2 linked regions of the Homo sapiens genome follow. The protein of the gene in region 2 interacts with the protein of the main gene of each other region in a pairwise test. Each region holds a gene or a part of one and is shown on either strand. Other genes may lie near its edges.

Region 1 (3,809 bases), on a different chromosome or scaffold from region 2:
CAACGCAACACTGCTGAGGTCGTGAGGGCTCCGTCCTCACCAAAGCGTTCTCGCTGTTAGCACAGGAGTGGCTCCTGATAAAAGGGTAAGTGTGGCCCCTTCTCTGTCTCCGTCTGTCTGTGTCTCATCTCTAGCTCTGTCTCTCATCTGTCTCTGTCCTGTGTCTCTCATCTGTCTGTCTCCATGTCTCTCCTGTCTCTGTCTCTCTTACCTGTCTCTCATCTCTCTGTGTCTCATCTCTGTCTCTGTGTCTCTCATCTTTGTCTCTCATCTTGGTCTGTGTGTCTCTGTCTCTCATCTCTGTCTGTGTCTGTCTGTCTCCCCTGCCCGTGCTCTCTTGCCCTCTGCCTTCCACCATGGGATGACACAGCAAAAAGCCCCAGCCAGATGCAGGCCCCTTGACCTCGGACTTCCCATCCCAGCCCGCAGAACTGGGAGAAGTCCCTGCTCTTTGTTTTTTTGAGACGGAGTCTCGCTCTGTCGCCTGGGCTGGAGTGCAATAGTGCAATCTCCACTCACTGCAACCTCCACCTCCCAGGTTCAAGGGATTCTCCTGCTTCAGCCTCCCAAGTAGCTGAGATTACAGGCACCCACCACCATGCCCAACCAATTTTTGTATTTTTTTAGTAGAGACAGGGTTTCACCATGTTGGCCAGACTGGTCTCGAACTCCTGACCTCGTGATCCGCCCGCCTCAGCCTCCCAAAGCACTGGGATTACAGGCCTGAGCCACCGTGCCCGGCCGTCCCTGCCCTTTCTACACTACTCAGTCTCAAGTCTCTGTTAGAGCAGCATAACGTGGACTAAGACAGCAAACCCCAGACAAGGCCTGAGTCAGCAAGGAAGAGCCCAGGGTCTGTGTCACAGTGGGTACCGCAAGGCTAAAGAGGCCCCATCTCCCATGGGACCCACAGCAGGCTAAAGAGGCCCCATCTCCCAGGGGACCTGCAGCTCTACTCTTGAAGGTGCCCATTTGGACCCTTCCTCTTCTTCCTGGCTTGCAACAACCCCTCCCCCGTCAAGGCCCCCAGGAGGAAGTGGGCCTGTCACCACCTGGGGTGGGGCACTGGGGCAGGGGATCTCTCTCCCTCCCCTTTGCTCCATTCTCTGAGCACCTGAGGGGTCCCAAGCCCCTCGCCAGTTAGGATGAAATAAAGACAGCTCTTACATCACCTTTTTGTGGGAAAGCACAAAGTTGAACTCCCTCTCCCTTTCCTAGTAAAATAAACTACAAACAAAAGTAAAAGTGAAAACGAGGCTGGGAGTGGTGGCTCACACCTGTCATCCCAACACTTTGGGAGGCCGAGGCGGGCGGATCATGAAGTCAGGAGTTCGAGACCAGCCCAACCAACATGGAGAAACCCCGTCTCTACTAAAAATACAAAAATTAGCCTGGCACGGTGGCACGCGCCTGTAATCCCAGCTACTCAGGAGGGTGAGGCACGAGAAATCACTTGAACCTAGGAGGCAGAGGCTGCAGTGAGCTGAGGTTGCACCACTGCACTCCAGCCTGGGCGACAGAGCAAGACTCCATCTCAAAAAAAAAAAAAAAAAAAAGGTGAAAACAAAGCTAGCAAAGTTGGAGGTGGGCTGGGGAGACAAGGCAGCTCCTGGGGGCCCTGGGGCCCGCACCCTGGGCAGGACTGCATACGGCAGCTGCCGCAGGGAAGACACAGCCAGGCACCGCCCGTCAGGACTTACCCAGCCCGGGCAGCAGGCGGAGGAGCGCGTTCTTGTTCCTCTGCTTGGTGATGTGCAGGACGTAGTACAGCCCCACCTCGCAGGCCATGCGCTGCTCCTGCAGAAACCTGCGCCCGGGGCGCCATCAGCCCCACCTCAGCCCCACCTCAGCCCCACCTCAGCCCCACACCGACCCCTGCCCAGCCCTGAGGCAGCCCCCTGGGCAACAGTGCCATCCCTGCGCCACGGCCACCCCTGCACCATGGCCCTACAGCCCGTACTTAGTGAAGCTTTCGGGAAGTGTGTTTGGATATGAGACTGGGGCTTTCTCCTCAGCCGGAAGTTTCTGATCCACATTGAAAGTGTAGTCATCCACCAGGAAGGACATGAGCATCGGGAGGAACCTGGTGATGAGCTCTACCTCCTACGAGGAGGGGAGGCCATGAGCGGGCGCGGGCCCGGGCCCTGCCCCACCCCACCCTGACGTGACACACACCCTGCCCCTGGCCCTCCCACTCCCCCAGATACCTCACCGACCCTCCCTCCTCTCCAGGTCCCCAGGTCCCTCTTCCCACCTCCCGAGTCCCCCACCCAGGCCATCTCCTCAAACCCCCTTCTAGGTCTGGACCCACATGGAGTAGTCACCACCTGTGGCCAGCCATGGTCCATGGAGACACCCCCAGAACAAGCCACGGTCCACGGAGACACCCCAGAACCAGCCACGGGCCATGGAGATACCCCAGAACCAGCCAGGGTCCACGGAGACACCCCAGAACCTCCCTGGTGGGCATTTTCCCAAAAGGAAGGTGGGCAGCTCCAGGAAGGAAGCTTTGGGACCAAAGGGGCCTCCACAATCACCTTGCTAGCGCCTCCCCCTCCACCCCACTTCCAGCCCACAACCCCTCGTAGGAAACTGGCAGCCCCCACAGGAGGCTCGTTACCATCTTGGGCTCCTTGAAGACCTGGCTGTCGATCATGTCCCAGGCTCCCTGGCCCAGCGCCAGCAGCCGGAGCAGCAGCAGGAGGTCGGGGCTGTCCTGTAGGGAGGACGGGCTCAGCGCCTCTCCCAGGCAGCTGTGTCCTGGCCATGGAGCTCCTCTGACCCTACTCGTTACTCAGCAGGATCTCTGGTGCCCATGGCCAGGACCACACGACTGCGATCACCAGCCCCACACACGGGGTGAAACGCAGTCTCACAGCGGGGAAGCACACGCCTCTACCTGGGCCACTGCAGTCCACATCCCCGACCACCAGAGCAGCCAGCAGGGCGGCCACAGGGCCCCAACAGCTGCCTCCACCTGGCCGCTGCTGTCCACACCCTGACCACCCAGAGCAGCCAGCGGAGTGGCCGCATGGCCCCGACAGCTGCTGGCCAAGCCCACACTCACCCTGGGCAGTGTCTCCTGGCCGACCAGCTCCTGCAGGTGCCTGACTGTGCTCAGTGCCAGCGTGTTGATGGCGAAGGGGTCACACAGGATCATGGACAGGTCCCTGGAAGGAGGCCGCCCTGGCATTAATGCGACGCCTGTTGCCCCTCCCTTCAGCGGCACAGTCCTCAGGAGGGGTGGCCTAGGCTGAATTCAGGACTGGCAGCGGGTGCCCATCACATGCTGGGTTTCTTACAAAAAGCTTAAGGATGGCCGAGCGCGGCGGCTCAGCCTGTCATCCCAGCACTTTGGCAGGCCGGGCGCGGCGGCTCAGCCTGTCATCCCAGCACTTTGGCAGGCCGAGGCGGATGGATCACCAGGTCAGGAGACTGAGACCAGCCTGGCTAACAAAGTGAAACCCTGTCTCTACCAAAAATACAAAAAATTAGCCGGGCGTGGTGGTGGTCGCCTGTGGTCCCAGCTACTCGGGAGGCTGAGGCAGGAGAATCACTTGAACCCGGGAGGCAGAGCTTGCAGTGAGCCAGGATCGCGTCACTGCACTCCAGCCTGGGCAAGAGAGCGAGACTCTGTCTCAAAAAAAAAAAAAAAAAAAGCTTAAGGTTTGCAATTTGTCCTTAACCTATTCAAAGATTTTTCAAATTAAAAAGTTAAAAAAACAAACAAAAAAAAGGCTGGGTGTGGTGGCTCACGCCTGTCATCCCAGCACTTTGGGATGCTGAGGCCGGTGGATTGTTTGTTTGAG
Region 2 (3,809 bases):
CTACTAAAAATACAAAAACAAAAAATTAGCCGGGCGTGGTGGTGGGCACCTGCAGTCCCAGCTACTCAGGAGGCTGAGGCGGGAGAATGGCGTGAACCCAGGAGGCAGAGCTTGCAGTGAGCCGAGATTGCACCACTGCACTCCAGCCTGGGCGACAGAGCAAGACTCTGTCTCAAGAAAAAAGAAAAAAGAGAGAGATATCAGCTCGAGATGCTCCTCTTCTTAAAACCCTCCAATGGCCTTCCATCTCATTGAAAATCAAAGTCAAAGCCCTAAATAATCTGCACCATTCTCCATCATCTCTGACCTCATCTTCCCTCACTCCCTCCTCCTCTTCAGCCACACTGACCTTGGTGTCTGCAAGGTCACCTGTTGACTGGTTTGTTCCTACCCCAGGACCTTTGCACTTGCTGTTTCCACTGCCTGCCAAGCTCTTACCCAACATCTCTACAAGGCTGGCTCTCTCAGTCTAACACTGCCCAGTCCCTTGCCATGCTATATTTGTCTTTCTAGAATTTATCACTACTGGCATCACTTTAAATATTTATTTTTAATTAGTTTGTTTATCTGTCTCCCTGAATAAAAATTAAACTCCATTGAGGTCAGCAACATTGCCTGTTTTGTTCATTCCCTAACCTAGAACTGAGCCTGGCATATAAATTCTTGTTAAAGGAAAGAGAGAAAAAGAGAGAACGAGACTGACTGACTGTCCCTGGGGGAGTAGGTGGTTATCTATTTCCAAGATATGCTCAAAGCCCATCCTGGGACCAGCTTTATTCTTTCATAAATTCAATAAATTCTTAATAAGCACCTGCTCCATAATTGGCCATGGGCTGAGTGCTGCTGACACAGAGATGAAGAAGACAGTCCCTGTCCTCCAGGAGCACTCAGCCTGGTGAAGAAGAATGTTTGATAGGGGAAGAGTCACCTTCAAGGACTTCCTTCTCTACTGATTTTCCTTATGACTTGAAGCAAGTCACCTCCCCTCTCAATGGGATTATTAAGGAGACAATGAACAGCATTAATCAATCCAAAACTCAGAGTAAAGGGCACCGGATAAATCTGAATGCCTGGATCATTAGAGGAAACATGATTCTCTTTCTGGACCATCAAGGAGATGAATCTGTTGGAAACCAGAGGGAGGGGCACTTGGGCACACCGCACTAAGACCTAGGATATTTTTGACAACTGGAAAACTCCAAAATAGTTAAGCATGCATCAAAATTAATCAGCTTTCAGGAAAACGTGAGGCTCCTGGGGAAAAGAATCAGTGCTTTCTAGTTACTAGGACACCGGAGGCAGAATGTGCAAATACCCCTATGTGGTATCATCCTCTTAGCCTAAAAGTACTCTCTGCACATGGTACTCTGTCAGAAAGGTGAAGGGAAAGAACTAACCCTTACTGAGCATTTGCTTCTTACGACAACCCTGGGAGATGGTCAGAACTGCAAGGAGGGAGGGGCCCTCTCTGATGTTTGGAGGGGTTAAGTCACATGTGCAAGGTCTTTGGCTGGTGTGCAAGACAGCACAGTTTCAAACCTCAGTGTGCTGGACTTCAAAACTCATGCACTCTCCACCCCATCTGTCATGTGCAAGGCATTGCTGGGTGCAAGAGAGAAGCAGAGAGGAGCAAGCTAGGAGCCCTGACTTCAGGAGCTCATATAGGCAAAGACCATGTTGGGGTGGGAGGGGGGGAGTGTGGGGGGTGGGGGTAAGTAGAAGGAAGTAACAAAGGCAAAGGGAAGTTGTAGGTGAGGTGTGAAAACAGAAAAGAAAGGCTTAGCAGGACAGAAAATGTGTCAAGGAGTGCTGGGAAACAAAGCTGGAAGGGCGAGTGGAAGCCAGATAAGAGAGGACTTTTACTGCCACATCAGGAAATTTGGAATTCATCCAGGAGGCAGGGAAAACCATTGAGGCCTCTAGAACTGGAGAACAATGTGAACAAAGAGGTCTGTAAAAAGAGAAATCCAACAATAGTGTATAGGATAAGCTGGAGAGGAGGAAAACTAGAGATTGAGAAGCTGGTTAAGATTGCTTATAAACACAGGGTCAACACGTACAGTTGTGTAGTTTGAGCATTTCTCAAAGTACTCAACCAAAGGGATAGACAGAGGATAAAATCCACTCTGTACACTCTTGGCCAGACCCAGCTGTAACCCTGGCACGTGGCTACATGCACCCAGATGGGGCATCTTTTCTAACTCACACATAGGCACCATATAGACTGGCAGGGTCCAGGTCAATTCTCAAACTTTTGGTTTCAGAACTCCATTCACTCTCAAACAAAACTACTGACGGCCTCAAAGAGCTGTTGTTTATGTGAGTCATATCTATCAGTATCTACCAATTAGAAATTAACACTGAGAAAGATGTAAAACTCCAGAATACATTAGCACAAACTCCATGCATCATCAGAGCAATGATGTTATCACGTCCTGTGGCCTCTGGAAAACTCCACGGTATGCTCATGAGAGGATGAGAGTGAAAAAGGCAAATAATGGCTCAGTGTTACTATGAAAACAGATTCTATTTCATTGTCTCCTGAAAAGGTCTTAGGGCCCCCCCAGGACACCCTGGACCACCACTTGAGAACTGCTGCCTAGTTAATATGGGCCTAGAGTGGAGTGGGAAAAACTGGAGAGAGGGAAGAGAAGATCCAGTTAACATCACAAGGAAGGCAAAATGGTACGTGGTGCTTTGTAGGGGATAAAAGAAGAGGAAAAAGCAAAAGATGACCCCAAGATTTTAAGCTCCAAGAGACAGGAAATCAACGGCAGGGAGAACTGTCTTTGGTTGAAAACAGAAGAGAAAGAAAAGAACCAGCAGAAAGGAAGAGAGGACACATTACGAATGAGGTTGGGATGGGGGTGAGGCTGGGGAGGGACAGACCAAGGTCCTAGAAGGGGAAAGGGAAGGATCAAGTCAAGAAGCCTTGGAGGTGTTGCCTTGGGGTTATGTCAAGATGTCTGTGTAGCTGGACATGAGACACAGAAAAGAGAAAAGGTAGACAGGAAAAAATGAGACGAACATAATAGACATTATAGGATCATAATATTAGCATCGCACTTGCCGTAGTGCCAACACTAGACTAAATGTCTTCCACGCATTTCTTCACGTAACCCTCATGACAAGAAGAGCAGAAGGCCAGATGAGCTGCCCAGTGTATGCAGGAAAGATAGGCCAGAGGAGGTGGAGCAGTGTGGGCTCACACTGCAGGGGCTGCAAGGAGAGGCCTGGCCACCCTGCTAGAATGACAAGGAGGGTCCAGATGCTTGAATATATGTGAACTGAACCAGGTCAGCCTGGTTTTCCCAGCTGCTCACTTGACAAGATGCAGTCATTCATTATTAAGTAGGTGTAAAAATACAAATTATCCACCTGGGTGGAAAAGACTAGACAGGCGAGGGGCTTGGCTGCATTGCCGCAAGCCACACAGCACTTGATGCTGTGCTGCCTCCTGTCTGGTCCCTGCACTGCTGCACATCCCAGCATCTCATGGCCCCCCAAAGGCAGACAGCATGAGAATGTCCTGAGGCTGGCCAGAGAATTAGGTGAGATGTTTGGGATGTGCCAAGGATGCTGCCAGGCAAAGGCTTTGTACAAATTTTCTGCTTCCTTCCATCCTTTCCCCCCAGGGTCCTGCTTACAGGACCTGATCCAGCAGATGGGATGCACCTTGAAACCTGGTCCTTTGTTCCAACTGAGTTTATGGGAAACTGCAAAAGAACTGTGGGGTATTCCCCCCATCCTTCTGGACTTTCCTCCAAGAGAACAAGACACACACACAGCAGAAAACATTTTGAGTCTTA

What was found.
Region 1: the proteins of NTRK3 (region 2) and NELFB interact in a two-hybrid assay, tested with the Homo sapiens proteins (one study listed by BioGRID).

What each region holds. Positions count from the first base shown.
Region 1 is NC_000009.12:137,265,238-137,269,046, reverse strand, and holds part of NELFB (negative elongation factor B), read right to left. Parts: intron 3,171-3,809; coding exon 3,068-3,170; intron 2,717-3,067; coding exon 2,621-2,716; intron 2,104-2,620; coding exon 1,961-2,103; intron 1,808-1,960; coding exon 1,701-1,807; intron 1-1,700. UniProt on the Homo sapiens protein: Essential component of the NELF complex, a complex that negatively regulates the elongation of transcription by RNA polymerase II.
Region 2 is NC_000015.10:88,138,236-88,142,044, forward strand, and holds part of NTRK3 (NT-3 growth factor receptor isoform a precursor), read right to left. Parts: intron 1-3,809. UniProt on the Homo sapiens protein: Receptor tyrosine kinase involved in nervous system and probably heart development.